4 linked regions of the Homo sapiens genome follow. The protein of the gene in region 4 purifies or fractionates together with the protein of the main gene of each other region. This does not show direct contact. Each region holds a gene or a part of one and is shown on either strand. Other genes may lie near its edges.

Evidence for each region. The genes of interacting proteins can lie anywhere in the genome.
Region 1: the proteins of ARCN1 (region 4) and NCAPG fractionate together in Homo sapiens (co-fractionation; one large-scale study listed by BioGRID). This does not show direct contact.
Region 2: the proteins of ARCN1 (region 4) and ACO2 fractionate together in Homo sapiens (co-fractionation; one large-scale study listed by BioGRID). This does not show direct contact.
Region 3: the proteins of ARCN1 (region 4) and AKAP12 fractionate together in Homo sapiens (co-fractionation; one large-scale study listed by BioGRID). This does not show direct contact.

Annotation. Positions count from the first base shown.
Region 1 is NC_000004.12:17,833,998-17,838,821, reverse strand, and holds part of NCAPG (condensin complex subunit 3), read right to left. Parts: intron 4,524-4,824; coding exon 4,299-4,523; intron 1,664-4,298; coding exon 1,482-1,663; intron 1,196-1,481; coding exon 1,021-1,195; intron 1-1,020. UniProt on the Homo sapiens protein: Regulatory subunit of the condensin complex, a complex required for conversion of interphase chromatin into mitotic-like condense chromosomes.
Region 2 is NC_000022.11:41,509,636-41,514,459, forward strand, and holds part of ACO2 (aconitate hydratase, mitochondrial precursor), read left to right. Parts: intron 1-2,240; coding exon 2,241-2,333; intron 2,334-4,824. UniProt on the Homo sapiens protein: Catalyzes the isomerization of citrate to isocitrate via cis-aconitate.
Region 3 is NC_000006.12:151,245,486-151,250,309, reverse strand, and holds part of AKAP12 (A-kinase anchor protein 12), read right to left. Parts: intron 1-4,824. UniProt on the Homo sapiens protein: Anchoring protein that mediates the subcellular compartmentation of protein kinase A (PKA) and protein kinase C (PKC).
Region 4 is NC_000011.10:118,577,228-118,582,484, forward strand, and holds part of ARCN1 (coatomer subunit delta), read left to right. Parts: intron 1-4,018; coding exon 4,019-4,282; intron 4,283-5,257. UniProt on the Homo sapiens protein: Component of the coatomer, a cytosolic protein complex that binds to dilysine motifs and reversibly associates with Golgi non-clathrin-coated vesicles, which further mediate biosynthetic protein transport from the ER, via the Golgi up to the trans Golgi network.

The sequences.
Region 1 (4,824 bases), on a different chromosome or scaffold from region 4:
ATGACATTAACCCTTTCATCATAAGCCCTGCATAATTATCCATTGCACATAAGGCCAACTCCAAATTCCCTACATTGGCCTTTAAAGCAATCTATAATCTACCCCCAGTGTTGTGCCCTAACAGTCCTATTCAGGATCCTTAGCCAAAGTCATCTTTCTACAGTTCCCCAATATTTGCATAACCATCTACATATATCACCTTTACTAAAACATCCTTCCTCTACCCAAACCACTCCCCAAATACCAACAAGGCCTAACTGAATTTTGGTCAATGAGTTTTAAAACTAATGCTGTACTCATCATTCCTACCACATGACTCTTGCCCTTGTCTCAAGTCATGAAGTGCTTAATAGCTCTATTACTGACCCTTACCTAATTTTGCCTAATATCCTTTGTAATCTTATCTTTCCAATAATATACAACATATGAATTGAACAGAGTAGCTTATCACTAAATATCAAATAAAATAGAGTAATACTTTCAACTTAATCTGTTAGCATCTGAAATCACTAATACATTAAATTTCAAAAATGGTAACAAGTTTGACCAAATGCCATTAAAGGATTAAAACAACCCAGCTTAAGTTCAGTCTGTGAGTCAGTGTGCAATTGATTTATCTTCTTTGAATTAAAAGCCAAAAAAGCTTGAGGTGAGTTCTAGTCTTTGAATTCTCCTTTCTTGTGCCAGAAGCATAGCAGGTAAGCCAACATTTGAAGACTCTGTGAGTCCTAGATAACATAGGTTATTACTTCAGATTAACAGTCAGTACTAGGTGGGCATGGTGTGGGTGGTGGATTTTTAGTAATTTCTTTTCAGTAGCAAAAATGTTAGCATTGATTACTTCTGTTTTCATATGATTTCTCCACATTTCCCAAGGTCATGTTTCTTTCGTGCTTTGTGGTATATGCTTGAGACAGAAGTCTAAAGACCAAAATGCAGTTCCTCAGTATTTCAAGGGATCTTTGAGAGAGATTATTTTACCAAAACAGTGATCTGCATGCAGTTACCACAGTCACTCACCTGATAATCTTGGGAAGTCTTGGCCTGAGGATTTAATCCACTTGGTCTTGTCAAATCTACAAGTAACTCAGCAACATTTGTGATATCAATTTCAGCTAAAGGAGAAGATGCAGGGGCATTGGCCAGTGTTTGCAGGGTTGGAAGAAAAGCTTCTTCAAAGCATTCCTGATTAGTCCTATTGAGAAACAAATTCAAAGTATGTTGGCAGAACATTATTTGATGAGAGAAAAAGTATGAAATTCAAAACTACTATGTAGGAAATTCACTCATTAAGTGCATTTTCATCTAGGAAAGAGCCAAAAATTCAGATAGATAAAATCTGTATCGTTCTTGTCATTTCATCATTTATCTACTAAAGACAGAAAAAGTATCAACAACAAAATATCATTATAGATATAATTCATGGGGGACTTGAATTTGATGTCAAGTCAGATTTTTGATTTATCAGTATGACTCAATACCTGCTTGCATAAGCAAACACGGGGAAGAACACGCCTAGGCAATGTCGAAGTTGAACATCCTCTTCAGTCACAGGATTGTACCATAACAAAATAAGACGAGAAAGAATCCTGCTGCTGACCAAAAGCCCAGAGAACATCAGCTTGGCTAGTCCTTCTGCAGCTCCAGTCCTAAGTTCAGATACCTAACAAAGATGACATTCATTAGAAGAAATTTATTTGTATCTCCTTTTTAAGCCTCTCAATGTAGCCTGTCCTACAGTATTTTTACACGAACCATCCAAAAACCATTCGAGTTATTACAAATTCTTTAAAGGCAAATAAAAAGACTGTTTCTTCAAAGCTAGAATAACAATTTTAGACAAATCTAAAAGACTAGGAGACTAGACAAATGCTTAGTCTAGCCATGAAAAATTCAATTATCTTAAAACTTTTTAGAAGAACCAAAAGGCCTTTTATAACTGTTGGAAAAAAAGAGCAAAACATATATTTAAATGCTTAGGGTTTCTAAGACATAGAAAACCCTGGCCCCTGGTATTAGAGGAAGGTGCCTATCTATAAGCAAAAGCTCCATATGTAGGAGTGCAATTTGTCTGAATAATGGATAGAATGTGAACAGAAGGTGTTGAAGCAGAAGGCATTCCTAGAAAAAGTAAACAAAAGTCTAGAGAAGACAAAGGAAAAGACAACTGGATGTACACAGGCAAAACAATGAAGCTGGACCTTAGACCATATACAAATATTAACTGAAAATGCATCAACAGCCTAAATATAAAAGCTAAAGCCAGAAAACTCTCAGAAGAAAACAGGGATAAATCTTCATGACTTAGACTTAGCACTGGATTCTTAGATAGGACACCAAAAGCAGAAGCAACAAAAGAAAAAAATGAGTGTATCTCCAAAATTAAAAATGTTTAATACATCTAAGTATATTAACAAGAAAGTAAAAAGACAACCTGTAAAATAAAAGTTACAAATTATACCTGATAAGGATCTACTACCCAAACTATATAAAGAACTCTATAAAGACAACCAACCCAACTTAAAAATGGGCAAAGGACTTGAACAGACATTTATCCAAACAAAATATACAAATGGCCAAGAAGCAGATGAAAAGATACTCAACATCACTAGTCATTAAGGAAATGCAAATCAAAACCACAATGAAGTAGCACTTCATATATACTAGGATAGCTATAATGTTTTAAAAAATGGAACCTAAGTGTCAATAAGGATGTGGAGAAATGGAAAACCTTCTACACTGAAGATGGAAATTTAAAATGGTTCAATCACTGTGGAAAACAGTTTGTCAAGTTCCCAAAAAGTTAAATGACTGAGCAACACAATTCCTAGGTATACAGATACCCAAAAGAATTGAAACAGCTACTCAAACAAATACATATACATGCCATGTTCATAGTAAGCAGCACTATTCACAATAGCCAAAAGGTAGAAACAGCCCAACTGTCCTTCAATGGATGAATGCATAAACAAATCACCATATATACATAAAATGGAGTATTCGGCTACAAAAAGGAACGGAGTACTGATACAAGATACCATGTGGATGAATCTCGAAAATGTTATGCTAAATTTAAAAAGCTAAACAGAGGTCACATACTGTATGATTCCACTTACACAAAATATCCAGAACAGTTAAATCCATAGAAACAGACTGCGGATTGGTTGCTGTCAGGGCTGGCAGAAGGGGGAATGAGGAGCAACTGCTTAATGAGTAGTTTCCTTTTGGGATGATGACAATGTTTTAAATTAGATGATAAAGGTGGTAGTTGCCTTTCATTTTGAATGTACTAAATGCCAATGAATTGTTCACATTAACAGTATTAGTTTGGGCCAGGCACGAGGGCTCACACTTGTAATCCCAGCACTCTGGGAGGCTGAGGCAGGAGGATCACTTGAGGCCAGGAGTTCAAGACCAGCCTGGGCAACAGAGCGAGACCCTGTCTCTACAAAAAATTTAAAAATCAGCGGGCATGGTGGCACATGCCTGTCATTCCAGCTATTCAGGAGGATTGCTTGAACCCAGCAGGTGAGGGGTCAGTGGACTATGATCACGCCACTGCACTCCAGCCTGATGACAGAGCAAGACCCTATCTCAAAAAAATAAAATTAAGTTTTGTTATATCACTTCTAACTCAATGAAAAACTACAATCAGTATAAAAAATTTTTAATCAGTTGGTTTACATGTGTGCTACAAAAATAGTAGTTCAAGAGTACTTAAAAGAGATCCAATCCCATACCCTATCTTACATCTTCTACCCACCCAATATAAAATTATTCTAAACTATTTCTTAAAAGTCTTGGGGATAAATCTTAGAGTCTCTATATCACAAATACAACATAAAGAAATAAAAAATAACAACCCACTTTAATCACTTCATTTTTGTTTATACTTCATTTCTTTGCATATACAATTTGATAGTGAGAAATTAGGTATGATAGTGAAAGTTAGGATTTAATTAAGATATTTAAAAAGTAAAATAAAAAATGTCTATCCAAATTTAAAATCCAGTAGGAAAAATAAGATATAAAGAGCATAGGGGAGAGGAACATCACACACTGGGACCTATCAGGGGATAGGGGGGTAGGGGAGGGATAGCGTTAGGAGAAATACCTAATGTAGATGGGTTGATGGGTGCAGCAAACCACCATGGCACATGTATACCTATGTAACAAACCTGTATGTTCTGCACATGTATCACAGGACTTAAACTATAATAAATTTAAAAAATAATAATAATAAACAAATACATGCTGAAAATGACATTTCATAATCACAGGACTGGATTATTTCTTACCTCACTATCTAAGAAATCAGAAAGGAGTTTCAGAACATTCTTAGCTGTAGCAGTCTCTTCAACTTCTTTTGATTCTTGCTCATCATCACTGTTTATTTCTGTACCTTCACAATGAAGTGTTTTGATTTTTTTAGTTTTAAATGGTTCAATCCCGAACGTCATCAGTTGGTCAAAGATTGCCTTTAAAGCACTTATTTTTATTGTGACATCATCAATTTGCAAAACCTAAATCAAGATATTCCCCACCAAAAAAAGTAAATTCAGTAAACTGTTTTGTTTCTGTTTACATAAAATTAATATGTATCTTGTTTTTTTCTTAGTCAAATTTTAATGACAGTGTCTAGTCTAAAGAAAACATCACTTTTCAAAAATACAGTTAAAATTTCAATTTAAAAAAATGTTATTTTTATTTATTTGAACCATAACATATAATAGAGCTATATACTTTAAGACAAAGTTAATCTTCACAGTCAATAAAAATTTCTGGAGTTGGAGTCAGGCTGAATTATATTATTTGTTCCTTTTA
Region 2 (4,824 bases), on a different chromosome or scaffold from region 4:
GGAAGAAACTTGATGCTTTTGTGGAAGTGAGAGGGGGCCTGTACTGCTGGAGTTCTCTGTGTTTGGAAGAGCGGGTGGTATGAGGTGGGCAGGGGCAGCCAGGAACGCGAGGGCTGTGGGAACGCTATGGTCACCATCCTCAGAGTCCTAGAACAGTTTAAGCGGAGAAAGAATATGGTCTTTTTTTTTTTTTTTTTTTTGAGACAGAGTCTTGCTCTATCCCCCAGGCTGGAGTGCAGTGACACACAATCTCGGCTCACTGCAATCTCGGCTCACTGCAACCTCCGCCTCCTGGGTTCAAGCGATTCTCATGCCTCAGCCTCCCGAGTAGCTGGGATTACAGGCACCCACCACCATACCTGGCTAATTTTTGTATTTTTACTAGAGACAGGGTTTCACCACGTTGGCCAGGCTGGTTTCAAACTCCTGACCTCAGGTGATCCACCCACCTCGGCCTCCCAAAGTGCTGGGATTATAGGTGTGAGCCACCACGCCCGGCCTAGAATGTGGTCATTATTACGTGTATTTGTAAAGTGTCCCTCTGGCTAGGGCTCAGAGGCAGTGACCTGTCTAGGGTCACAGAACCAGAGATGGATCCAGGCTGAGTCCAGGCCGAGACTCTGGCACCAGTCTGGGGTCCTCCCACACCCCTTCCTCACACTTAACACAGACGTGTAGTCACATGCGCCCAGACACGACCACAGCCTCCTGTCCTGGATACCAATTTCATAAGTGACCGATTTGTAAATGAAAAAGCTGATGTATTAATTATTAATTGGAAAGAGACTGCTCTGGAAACCCACGTTCTTTGCCATTCTCTTACCTGGGGGAACCCAGTGGGCCTTCAGAGGGCACACACTGGTCTGGAGTTTCAGTGAAGGGGTGTGTGGTTTGAGTGTATCTCATCAAGGGTCCGAGGGCACTGGCTGAGGTCCCTTCTCTGAAGCATCGCTCTCCCATGCCGGAGGCTGGCAGGTCCCATTTCCTAGTTCCTCCTTTGAGACTCAGTAGAGTCCACTAGAATCCCACCGTTTTGTTACTGGGGTCAGTCTCACTGACCCCACACAGGGACCTCCCATGTCTTCCAGATAAACCCTGGCCTCACATCTGCTGTGCAGTGGGCCCTTCCCTGTCCCTCAAGGAAGCTTCCTTCAGATTATAGGCAGGATGGCTACAGCCCGTGTCATCATTTCGTTTGGCTGAAACCTCCTTTTCAGAACAGTGGTCCCTTCGACAGCCTTCCATTTGGGCCCATCAAACACATTACCAAGAATTCAGCACTTCCGACAGTCAGACACCAGTCCAGGGGGCTCTCTCAGGTGTCGTCTAAGCCTGGGATCTCCAGCAAGTTATTTCAAAAAAAGCCTCTGGGGTTTTTGTTTTGTTTTGAGGCAGGGTCTTGCCCTGTCACTCAGGCTGGAGTGTAGTGGTGCGATCTCGGCTCATTGCAGCCTTGAACTCCTGGGCTCAAGTGATCTTCCTGCCTCGGCCTGCAAGTAGCTGGGACCGCAGGTGCACAGCTAATTTTTATTTATTTTATTCTTATTTTTATTTTTTGAGACAGTCTCGCTCTGTCTTGTAGGCTGGAGTGCAGTGGCACGATCTCGGCTCATTGCATCCTTGTCTCCCAGGTTCAACCAATTCTTGTGCCTCAGCCTCCCGAGTAACTGGAATTACAGGTGTGCACTACCATGCCTGGCTAATTTTTGTATTTTTAGTAGAGACAGGGTTTCGCCATGTTGGCCAGGCTGGTCTTGAACTCCTGACCTCAAGTGATCTGCCTGCCTCAGCCTCCCAAAGTGTTGGGATTACAGGCGTGAGCCACTGCACCCAGCCACTGCGCCTAGGCCAGGGCCTGCCTCTGCACTGCTGGCCTCATCTGGGGACTTGAGTGCCACAGGCACTCTTGGCAATTATTTAGACCAGTCCCTTCTCCAGATAAGGAAACTGAGACCCAGACCAGGGCAGGGACTTGTTCCAGACCCACCACCCTGGCCAGGTGTCACAGAACTGGGGCTCCATCTCTGCTCCCCTGTCCTTCTCTCTGACACTGCTAGTGGAGACTGGGCCAACATCCAAGCTCTTTGGAATTATTTTTAGAAGGTCTCTAAGAGAGGGCCTGTCTCCAGTGCCAGTATTTCAGAGTCAGAAGGGAGGCTGATGGGGTGGGGAGGGCTTGGTGAGGGTCACCTGGACACAAACCATGTTGCTAACGCCCAATTATTGATTTGTCTCAATAGGACATCAACCAGGAAGTTTATAATTTCCTGGCAACTGCAGGTGCCAAATATGGCGTGGGCTTCTGGAAGCCTGGATCTGGAATCATTCACCAGGTAAAGCTGGGCTCAGTCTGCCGTCCCAAGGGCCCAAGCCAGAGAAGTATGTTCCAGGCCTATGGGGGGAGGGGGTTTGAGGCCCAGGGGGGCTGAGGGGAACTGGATGACATATCCATCAGCTCTTATGCTCTTCCTCCTTTGTTTTGAAACTGATTTTCATTATGTCATTATACGTGCTCATTTTCTGGGTGAGAAGTTAAAATAATACCTCCTAACCACCCAGGTAACCAGCATTTTAAGTGCGACATGTTTCTTTCCACATTGTCTTCTGGGTGTGTACTCAAGCATCTCTATTCCCATAAACTCTCATACAGAACATGGTATTATTTTGTTTTTTTTCACAAGTGTCACCCCTTGTGGCATGCATCACTGACATTTGATGAGCCCATACTGTGTCTCAGGTACTAGGCTGAGCACTTGAAAGATATTTGCCATGCCCTGTGAGGTAGGTGCTTTTACTATCCACACCCTACAGAGGAGGCAGCTGAGGCACAGAGATGTTAACCTTCTTGCCCAGGGACACCTAGCTGGCTTACTGTGGAGCCAGGCCTGTGGGCAGGAGGGCTGGTCTGGAGCGAGTGCCCCATGCCACCGTGCTGCTCTGCCGCCTCCCTCGCCCCCAGAGCTCTTTCTGCTTCTGCACGTGGCGCTCCTCGGATTTCTTTTTGGCTCCTTCATGGTGTTCTGTAGGGTGAAGGTACCATAGGTCATGTGGCCATGTCAGCCGGGGGCTCCTCTGAGGTGTCCCAAGGATGGATCTTCTTTTGGTGGACAGTTGGACAGTTTTGTCTCTGGAAGTGCAAGTGTGAACGTGTATATCCTGGGGAGGTGGGTGCTTCCCTTTCTTCCAAGGGCACTGTTAGGGACCACTGACCTAGTTTGTGTCCATTTACATCCACCCTGTATGTATGAAACCTGCCTCTTCGCACCTTTGCAAGGTGGCCCTTCCCCCCACCTCCATCCCAGACCTCACTGTCCTGGCCTCCTCAGGATGTGCTGAGTCAGGCTGTAATCTGACGCCGCATGGGCTCCCAGCACCGCCCCGCTCTGAAACCAGAGCCAGCAGGGGATCACTCCTCTGCCCTGCCCAACCATCACTCTTGCCAGGAAGGGGCTGCGTGGAATGGCCGTTTGCAGCGGCCTGTGGGGACTAGAAAGCCCCTCTCTGCAGCAGGGTTAGGGAGTCAGGTGGACCCAGTCTTGGCCTTCTGTTACAAAGGGCACTGCAATGCAGGTGTCTCCCTTTCTACCTCAGTACAAATGCCCAGGCCTTTATGGCAGCTCCTGGGCCAAAGTTTGGAGCCGTGAGTGATGGCAGCTCACATCTGCCACCGGCTAGCTGCTAAGCATACAGCAGCTCGTGTGTTTGTTTCTTTAAAAAGAAAATGCCCAGGGGCCATGGGAGTACTTTGCAGCTTTACTTTCTTCCCGCCTTGATGTCACGTCTTCAGCAGCCTCAGTCCATTAGGTCCAACCCAAACCTGAACCCCTTTCCCTCTGGGAAGTGCCCTGGCCCCACTTGGCCCGCAGACCTTCCTCCACATCACAGCTTTCTGGTTCCTCTGTGGAGCCTCCCCGGCCCTCCCCGTGCCTGGCACAGTGGCTTCCAGTGGATCCTCTGTGGGATCTCTTCACATTATGTTCCAGCATCTGCCAAGTGCTTTCTGCACTGGATCATGTGCTCTGTGGGGACAGGGACTGTGGCTTATTTATTCCTCTCTAGCTCTGGGTTTGGGACCAGGTCAGTACAGAGCAGGTCCTTAATGTATGTGTGTGTTGTGTGGATGGATGGCTGAATTTCCAGGTGTAGTTCTAGGCATTAGTCCTTCTTCCCAGCCCTCACCCCCATCTGTCCAGCCACACCCACAGACCGGGGAGCTCACTGTCACGGCCAGCGTCATCGTGACATCTTCTGCAGTCCTCATGTCTGCCTGACCTCTCCCCCTGGATGTGGACCACAAGTGTCTACACCGTGTGGACCACAAGTGTCTACACCGTGTAGACCACCCCGAATTCTGTGTGCCCAGCCTTCGTGGATCCAACTTTTACAAGCTTGAGGCTCTTTAGGGATGCACTAGTCTTAAATCCTTGTACGTGGCAGCATTGGCCAGTTCTTCGCAGCCAGGTCTTCCCTCTGCATCCCCAAGAGATGAGACCTTTGGACCTTAGAGTCTGCTAGGCAGATGCTTGTCCTGAGGCAGAGGCCCTGGGGTTTCTGTAAGATTTCTGGGAGCACTGGTGGGTCCTGAGAGTTCACAGAGCCTGTCACACCTCTCATGTGTTCTTCCCCACATCCCCGGGTGGGGCACTAACTCCATCTGACTGATGAGCGGCAGAACCTCAGGTGAAGGCTCTTGCTGCAAAACAATAAATAAAAATGTTGCTTCCCGCAGGCACTATTCTGTGCCTCATGGACAGGATCTCATCCAGTCATCAGTGAACCAATGATGTGAGCACGATTGTTAGCTATTTCTTGATAGGGAAACTG
Region 3 (4,824 bases), on a different chromosome or scaffold from region 4:
GTCAGACTGGTCTCAAACTCCTGACCTCAAATGATCCACCTGCCTCAGCCTCCCAAATGCTGGGATTACACGCGTGAGCCACAACGCCCAGCCTATTTATTTATTTTTTTGAGACAGGGTCTCTGCAGCTTCAACTTCCCGGGCTCTAGTGATCTTCCCACCTCAGCCTCCCAACTAGCTGGAATTACAGGCATGTGCCACCACACCCGGCTAATTTTTAAATTTTTTGTAGCAGTGGGGTCTCACTATGCTGCCTAGGCTGATCTTGAACTCCTAGGCTCAAGTGATCCTCCCACCCTCACCTCCCGAAGTGCTGGGATTATAGGCATGAGCCACCATGCCCACCAGGTGTGAGCCACCATGCCCACGAGCCACATGTTGGTATTTATGTATGTATGAACTCACCATAGCCATGAAAGAGACAAGGGTAACACTTGAGATGTAGAATATAAAACTATTTTAAACCATGGGCTTGCTATTATAATTGATCAGATGTTTAGCCACTCCCACAATGCTTTCAGTTTATTGCACAAATAGACACAGCAGAAAAAATTTAAAAGTAAAAGGAAATCAATAAACAGGTTTATGCATATATGGAAACTTGAGTTTTAACAAGAGGTAACTTTTTAATCAATGGTACTGGAGCAATAGGTAACCCATATAAAAATGAATTTAAGATTTCTCCTTCTAGACATCATCAGTAGCTAGTGGAATAAAGATCTAAATATATGAAAGAGAGAACTTTAACTTTTTTAGAACTGAACTTCTGTTTCCCCAGTTCCTAGCACAGTTCCTGGAGTACAGAAGCTAGTAAAGAAGTATTTATGAAATGGCCAGGCGTAGGTGGCTCACCCTGTAACCCAGCACTTTGGGAGGCCAAGGCAAGAGGATCACTTGAGCTCAGGAGTTCGAGACCAGCCTTGGCAACACAGTGAGACCTTGTCTCTATTATATTAAAAAATAAATGGAAGAAATTAAAACAGAAATATTTATGAAATCAAGATTGAATAGTAAGTGGCTGAGAAAGCCAGAACTCTATTCTTCAACAACTTGGTAGGTTTTAAAATTTCTTTACAGATTTTTGGACCAGTCAAATGCCATAAACTAAGCCCTTAGCTACTGTCTACTTATTCAGCACAAGGGAAGTTTTAAAATGATAAATAAGGGAAGAGGGCTTAGGAGGCAATGAGATGGAAGGGGAACACCGAAAAGTCACAGCTTCTGGCTCAGTAGGGATACGGGCATTTCACTGAACACCTACTTACCTTGAATGGCACAATCTATTTTAAAAAGCCTCCGTTAGCAATCCACTTTTTTTTTTTTGAGACAGAGTCTTGCTCTGTCGCCCAGGCTGGAGTGCAATGATGCGGTCTCGGCTCACTGCAACCTCCACCTCCTAGGTTCAAGCGATTCTCCTGCCTCAGCCTCCCGAGTAGCTGGGATTACAGGTACACACCACCATACTGGCTAATTTTTGTATTTTTAATAGAGATGGGGTTTCACCATGTTGGCCAGGCTGGTCTTGAACTGCTGACCTCGTGATCCGCCCGCCTCGGCCTCCCAAAGTGCTGGGATTACAGGCGTGAGCCACCATGCCCGGCCAGCAACCCACTTTTTAATATAGTCAAACAAAGGAATGAAATTATGTGGAAGAAATATTTTCCTTTATTTTATCCTCCAGATGTGTGAAGGAAAATGCTACTCTTTCATCATGTGAAACCGTCCCTCTCACCCACACAAGTTCCAATCTCAGTGAAATCTGCACATGCTATCACCCAGTGTCACCTAGACCTGAACCTCTCCCTGGCCCTTATTCAGCTCTTACGCCTACTCCTTCCCCTCCCTTAAGGTAATGGAGCCCACACCCCACACATTAGAATATCTGATGAGCATTTTAAGACTACAGAATCCCAGCACAGTGGCAGGAGCTGGTAGTCTCAGTTACTCAGGAGGCTGAGGCCAAAGGATGGCCTGAGTCCGGGAGTTCAAGACTAGCCTGGGAAACACAGTGAGACCCTGTCTCTCAAAAAAAAAAAAAAAAATCACAGAATCCCAGACCCTGAGATTGCCTGGGATTCTAATTCAATAAATCCAGGATGAGGTGTAGGGGTGTCTTTGAAAAGCTCTCTAGGTGATTCAATAGCACCACCAGGTTTGGGAATTAGGAAAAATTTAATCCTTCAATACTCCCAGTTTGCAGTATTTGCATATAACAAATAGATGGTCAGCCAATAAACTGCAGTAATCTCTCCTTCTTAAATTTTGGTTTATTTCGTTTTGAAATCAAACATGAAACTGACATGCTACTACAACTGGGATTAAGATTAGGCAGAGAGAAACTACAGGGTTTCCCCCATTTAAAAAACATCACAGAGAAATCACAGGGAAGACAAAAAGCTTTGAACCTGAAATGAATACTTGTATTAAGAGGTGCCTAATGGTGTCCCGGTGTCCCAGATGGTTTCCTGTGCTTTGAACACCTACATTTTTCTCAGAAAATCCATGTATACCATCCAGTTAACAGAGCCAGGCTGTTTGCCGTGAGAACGGGAGAGGATCCCGGGTAAGCCTTCACTCTATTGTTTTCCCAAGAGGTGGATTTCTGCTGCTTCCAATCCCTGATCTCAACATTTCACGGATCATGACCACAAAGTAATTTCTGGCAACTAAATGATTTTAGATTGTTCCAAGAGAAGAAATTTTAAAAGTGATAGCTAAAGAAGTAGGTCATCCTCCAAGCAAATAAATTTAAAGATGGTTCATTAATTTGGAAAGGAAAAGGAGCAAAGGAGAGTAAGACTGCTCTACCTCAGCTGCGTTTTTATTCTTGAACTTGCTTTTTTCCAATTTGATTAATTTCTGGGGAAAAAGTTTTTTTGTTTTTTTGTTTTGTTTTGTTTTTTTAAATAGAGATAGGGTCTTGCTCTGCCACCCAGGCTGTAGTGCAGTAGCATGATCATAGCTCACTGCAGCCTCATACTCCTGGGTGGAAGCAATCCTCTCACCTCAGCCTTCCAAGTAGCTAGGACTACAGGTACACGTCACCGCACCCAGCTAAATTTTTTATTTTTTGTAGAGATGGGGTCTTGCTATGTTGCCCAGGCCACTCTTGAACTTTCTCTCAAGTGATCCTCCCTTCTTGGCCTCTCAAAGTGCTGAGATTACAGGTGTGAGCCCCCACACCTGGCTAGAAAAAAAAATCTTTAAAAATTAATTGGGCAGGGCATGGGGGCTCACACCTGTAATCTCAGCACTTTGGGAGGCAGAGGTGGGAGGATCACTTCAGTCCAGGAGGTCCAGACCAGCCTGGGCAACACAGTGAGACCTTGTCTCTACCAAAAATAAACAAAATTAGCCAGGCATGGTGGTGTGCACTTGTAGTCCCAGCTACCTGGTGGTGTGTGCCTGTAGTCCCAGCTACTCAGGAGGCTGAAGTAGGAGGGTCATTTGAGCCCAGGAGGTCGAGGCTGCAGTAAACCAAGATTGCACCACTGCATTCCACACTGGGCAACAGAATGAGAGCCTATCTCAAAAACAATAAATAAATAAAATTAAAGTTAAATGAAAATGAAAATGAAAATTAATTAACAGTGAAACAAACCATAGCCTTTCATGCTCTGACAGCCAGACCAGTGCATGATCAGATGGCAAGCACATGGCAGAGAAACATGATGAGGCATTCAACTTCACAGTTAAAAATGCACCAAGGAAACTGAGGTACCATTCTTCACCTAGCACATTGGCAAGTATTGGAAAATCTGATACCCATGAAGGCAAAGCATGGGAAAACGAGTGCTGATCTCCACGGTGGAACTGCAAAGTGGTAGAACCTCTTTGGAAAGTCAATTTAGGAAGGGTTAAATTTTTTGTTTTTGTTTTTGTTTTTGTTTTTGAGACGGAGTCTTGCACTGTCACCCAGGCTGGAATGCAGTGGTGAGATCTCAGCTCACTGCAACCTCCCCCTCCCAGGTTCAAGAGATTCTCCTGCCTCAGCTTCCCAAGTAGCTGGGATTACAGGCACCTGCCACCACACCCAGCTAATTTTTTGTGTTTTTAGTAGAGACGAGGTTTCGCCATGTTGGCCAGGCTGGTCTCGAACTCCTGACCTTGTGATTCACCTGCCTCGGCCTCCCAAAGTGCTGGGATTACAGGCGTGAGCCACCGCACCTTGCCGGGTTAAATTTTTAAATGCATATAAAGCTTGCAATTCAGCAATTACACTTATGGACGAGGACAATCTAAATATAAACCCAAGGAATTGGTTAAATCGTTACAGGGCTTCAACCCACAAAAGGGAAATTTATGCACCCAAATTAATAAGAATGGGGGCAGTTATTTATGTCCTGATATGAAAAGACATCCAAAACCTAAATCTATATGTGATATGATCTTTTTCTTAAATGGAAAAGACTGTGCCATTTTTATCTACTTTCATGTGCATGAAGTTTTCGAAAGAATATGTAAGAAGCCATCATATTGGCTTCAAATTTTACTTAAATTTGTGAGTAATTTACCCTACTTATAAATTTAAGTTCTCAATCATTAATTTTTTTAAAAAATAAACATTAAATGAATATTGCTATGCAATGACTTTAAATAAAAATCATTAATAAGGGTAAACACATGCTTTTGATTTTTTTTTTTTTTTTTTTTGAGACGGAGTCTCTCTCTGTCGCCCAGGCTGGACTGCAGTGGTGACTGCAGTGGTGCCATCTCGGCTCCCTGCAAGCTCCACCTCCCGGGTTCACGCCATTCTCCTGCCTTAGCCGGGTGGATCACGAGGTCAGGAGTTTGAGACCAGCCTGGCCAACATGGTGAAACCCC
Region 4 (5,257 bases):
TTCTGTTTCTTTCTTTCTTTCTTTCTTTTTTTTTTTTGAGGCAGAGTCTCACTTTGTAGCCCAGGCTGGAGTGAAGTGGTATGATCTTGGCTTACTGCAACTTCCGCCTCCCAGGTTCAAGCAATCCTCCCACCTCACTCTCCCCGTAGCTGGGACTACAGACGTGCACCACCAGACTTGGCTAATTTTTTGTATTTTTTGGTAGAGACAGGGTTTTCCCATGTTGACCAGGCTGGTCTCGAACTCCTGACCTCAGGTGATCTGCCTGCCCTGGCTCCCAAAGTGCTGGATTAAGGCATGAGCCACCGCTCCCGGCCTAAATGCTGTTTCTTCTATCAAGTCATCCCTGACTGTACCAGCTGGAAGTAATCTCTTCCTCTGAATTTCCACGCACTTTATCGGTTACTCTCTCATGTTACTTAACACATTCTGCCTCATATTACAGTTATTTGTGTTTGTGTCTTATCCCTATTAAGCTTCTTGTAGGCAGAATGCTAGCCTGTGTCATCTTAATTCTCAGAAAGCATGTTGTATGTATAGTAGATGTTCGATAAATAATTACTCAGTTAATTCTTATAATATCGCAAAAATGGAGATTACCAGTACCTATAATTAGTTTTTGAACATGCTCATCAGTAAAGTGGATGGGCCAGGTGCAGTGGCTCACTCCTGTAATCCCAACACTTTGGAGGCCAAGGCGCGCAGATGACTTGAGGCCAGGAGTTGGAGACCAGCCTGCCCAACATGGCAAAACCCTGTCTCTATTAAAAATAGAAAAATTAGCCAGGCTTGGTGGTGCTGGCCTGTGCCTGTAGTCCCAGTTACTCAGGAGGCTGAGGCATGAGAATTGCTTGAACTCAGGAGGCAGAGCTTGCAGTGAGCCAAGATGGCACCACTGCACTCCAGCCTGGACTACAGAGTGAGACACTCTCTCAAAAAATAAATAAATAAATAAATAAATAAATAAATAAATAAATAAATAAATAAAGTGGATAGTAACATACACCTTTTTGTTCCTTTTTCCCTCTCAAGTTGCTTTTGATGTTTTTACCTAAATTTTACTTGTATGGTATAGAGGTGTTTTTAACTCCAGTTGGAAACCTAAGAACTACCCTTGAGCCTGTAAACATTGTTTCTAACAGGTTTATTATTAGATATGGGGTTTCTATTAAATGCAGCATGTTTATATAGGTCTGAAGTTTTGGTCTGAGCTGTCCTTTCTTTAGGTGTTCATTTGATTTGTCTTATTTCTTCAAAACCTCATAAAATTCTAACATAGAGGACCATGACTTCCTAGAGCTATGACTCTCAACCTTTTAGGGATAGGAGGCTCTACAGGGATTACATTTACAATATGCTCCCATTTATTAATAATATTTCTCATCGCATGAGGGGATTTTCTATGGGCCATTTGAAATAACTTCTCTAGAGGATCGATGCATTCCCTGAAACTGTATGTAAAATTTTGGGGGGAGAGTCAATATTCATTATTTGAATATCAAAATATTGACAAAGGCAAAAATCCATTGCCTTGGCCGGATGCTGTGGCTCACACTTGTAATCCCAGCACTTTGGGAGGCTGAGGTGTGCGGATCACTTTAGCCCAGGAATTTGTAGCCTGGGCAACATGGCAAAACCCCGTCTCTCTTTTTTTTTTTTTTTTTTTTTTTTTTTTTTTTAATAAAAAAAGAAAAATCCATTACCTTGAAGTGGCATAAATTTTTTTCATGAGATGCATGTTTATTATTACTAATGGTGCTGTTTTACATCATGAATATATGTGCTACAAGTTGTATAGCACTTCTGAAGTACAGTTTCATTATAGTCATTTGGCCCTCATAATAGCTTGTAAGGTCATTAGATAATGCTGCATTTTATAGGAAAAGAAACGAGGTTAAGAGAGGTTGGGTAACTGAAGGTCAGGCAGATAGTAAATAGAAGAACAAAACTAGAAAATAGATTTTCTCACTCCCAGTCATTTAGTTTTTCTAATATCAGCTTGGTTCTTTGCAAATTTGGGACACTAGTTCTAAGTCTTTAGGAAAAGGAGAAACCAATGTGAAATGATCCCAAATATAAGGGAATTCCCTACTTTTCTGATGAAACTATTAAGAAGGAAAGCTTTTTGCCAATTGTATAAACTTTTTAAAATGCAGCCAAAATAGGCCGGGCGGTGGCTCATGCCTGTAATCTCAGCACTTTGGGAGGCCGAGGTGGGCAGATCACCCGAGGTCAGGCATTTGAGACCAGCCTGGCCAACCAACATGGTGAAACCCCATCTCTACTAGAAATACAAAAAAAAAAAAAAAAATTAGCCGGGCGTGGTGGCAGGCGCCTGTAATCCCAGCTACTCGGGAGGCTGAGACAGGAGAATCACTTGAACCTGGGAGGTGGAGGTTTCAGTGAGCGGAGATCTTGCCATTGCACTCCAGCCTGGGCAACAAGAGCAAAACTCCATCTTAAAAAAAAAAAAGGTAGCAAAAATAGTCAAATATGTTCTTAAAATAGTTAATAATTCACTTATATGTATATGTTTTAAATAAATAAAGTTTAATTTAGAAATAATTACTTTTTTCCATTTTCATATTAATAAAACAATTTTTTCTAGATTCTTTATGAACATCATGTCATCACTGGGGCCACTTTTTGAATCATCAGTTTGGTATTTAGCAGTTTTGAATCCATGTGTGATATATTGGCAGTTTGGGAAATTTTATCCCAAGTCATAAAAACCCATTTATATAATATTAGGATAGTTGCTTTTAAAAGGAATATTTTGTAACTGATATTCAACACATGAAATTGTGAGTTCTGGCTAGGCGTGGTGACTCATGCTTGTAATCCCAGCACTTTGGGAGGCCAAGGTGGGCTGATCACTTGAGTCCAGAAGTTCAAGACCAGCCTGGGCAACATGGTGAAACCCCACTTCTACCGAAAATACAAAAATTTGCCAGGCATGATGGCACCTGCCTATAGTCCCAGCTCCTTTCAGGGGGCTGAGGCAGGAGGATTGTTCAAGCCCAGAAGTTGAGGCTACGGTGAGCCAAGATTGCACCATTACAGTCCAGCTTAGGTGACAAAGTGAGACCCTGTCTCCAAAAAAAAAGAAAGAAATTGTGAATTCTGATCCTCAGGATAATTACTAAATCCAGTGACCTTTTGTTAGTACTACATGCAAAACTAGCGTAGTTTGAAGATAAGATGTATCCCAGACAATTATTTTAGTTCAATATAAAGTCATTGAGGGAGCACCTTTAATATGAGAGACTATGGAAGGATTCAAAACTACACAACTCTTTTTTAAAAATATATAAGTATTCCTTACATAAAAATATATTACCATGATAGCATATTTTCACACCTAAAAAATTAGCAATAATTTTTAATATTATCAATTATTCAGTCACTGTTCAAATTTGATTTATACATTGTGATTGATTGACATGTCTAAGTCTCTTAATGTGTTTGTATTTTTAGTAGAGATGGGGTTTCACCATGTTGGTCAGGCTGGTCTCGAACTCCTGACCTCAAGTAATCCACTCGCTTTGGCCTCCCAAAGTGCTGAGTTTACAGGTGTGAGCCACTGTGCCCGTGAAAGTCAGTATTCTATTACTTGTCATGTCAGCTGGTCGTGGTAGTTCACGCCTATAATCCCAGCACTTTGGGAGGCCAAGGCAGGAGGATCGCTTGAACCCAGGAGTTCAAGACCAGCCTGGGAAACATAGCGAGATACTGTCTCTACTAAAAGCTTTTTAAAAATTAGCGAGGCTTGGTGGCACACACTTGTAGTCCCAGCCACTCAGGATTTCTTGAGCCCAGGAGTTTGAGGTTGTAGTGAGCTGTGGTCTTGCCATTGCACTCCGGCATGGGTGACAGAGTGAGACCCTGTCTTAAAAATAATACTACTACTAGTCATGTCACTAAATAAATATGTCATTCTATGGAACATTTCCTGAGATGCTGAGAAAACAGATGTGAAGAAATAATTAGTACTTACTTATGCATATGTTCCTGGCAGGTGCTGTTGGCAGCAGCGGTCTGCACAAAAGCAGGAAAGGCTATTGTTTCTCGACAGTTTGTGGAAATGACCCGAACTCGGATTGAGGGCTTATTAGCAGCTTTTCCAAAGCTCATGAACACTGGAAAACAACATACGTTTGTTGAAACAGAGAGTGTAAGATATGTCTACCAGCCTATGGAGAAACTGTATATGGTACTGATCACTACCAAAAACAGCAACATTTTAGAAGATTTGGAGACCCTAAGGCTCTTCTCAAGAGTGGTAAGAGTACTGCTATAATACTGGGTTCCACTTTTTGTTTTACATTTTATGTGAAACTAGTTTTTCCTCCAAAGCAGCTGATGCTAACCAGTTTGCAGGTTCCTACTCCGCACCCCAGCGACTTATTGCTGCAGCACCTTGTTTATTCAGCAGACATTTATTGGGTGTCCTCTTAGACTATAGATGTCTCAAAAGAATATGGGAACTACTGTTTCATTTCCCAGTTCTTAAGCAGTTGTTCTAATCTGCCGTTCTAGTTCTGACACTTGTTTGGCTATGCTTTTTAGGTAATGTTTTTTAGGTAAGACTTACTGATCCAGAGACAGACACACACACACACACCCCTCTTCTAAGACTTTATGCCAAAGTCTTGCTTAAAATGAAGACTTAGGTAAGACTTACTGATCCAGAGACAGACAGACAGACAGACACACACACACACACACACACACACACACCTTTTAAGACTTTATGCCAAAGTCTTGCTTAAAATGAAGGCTAAGGCCAGGTGCGGTAGCATGTGCCTGTAGTCCAAGCTACTCAGGAGGCTGAGGCAGAAGGATTGCTTGAGGCCAGGAGTTCAAGTGCACAGGCATTATACTTTAGTGTGGGCAACACAGCAAGACCCTGATTCTTTTTTTTTTAAAGACGGAGTCTCGCTCTTGCCCTGGCTGGAGTGCAGTGGTGCAATGGTGCAATCTCGGCTCACTGCAACCTCCACCTCCCAGGTTCAAGCAATTTTCTGGCCTCAGCCTCCCGAGTAGTTGAGATTACAGATGTGCATCGCCATGCCTGGCTAATTTTTGTACGGGGTTTCACCATGTTGGCCAGGCTGGTCTCGAACTCCTGACCTCAGGTGATCTGCCTATCTTGGCGTCCCGAAGTGCTGGGATTACAGGCATGAGCCGCTGCACCCGGCTGTAAGAATCAGGGTCTTGGGCGTGGTGGCTCACGCTTGTAATCCCAGCACTTTGG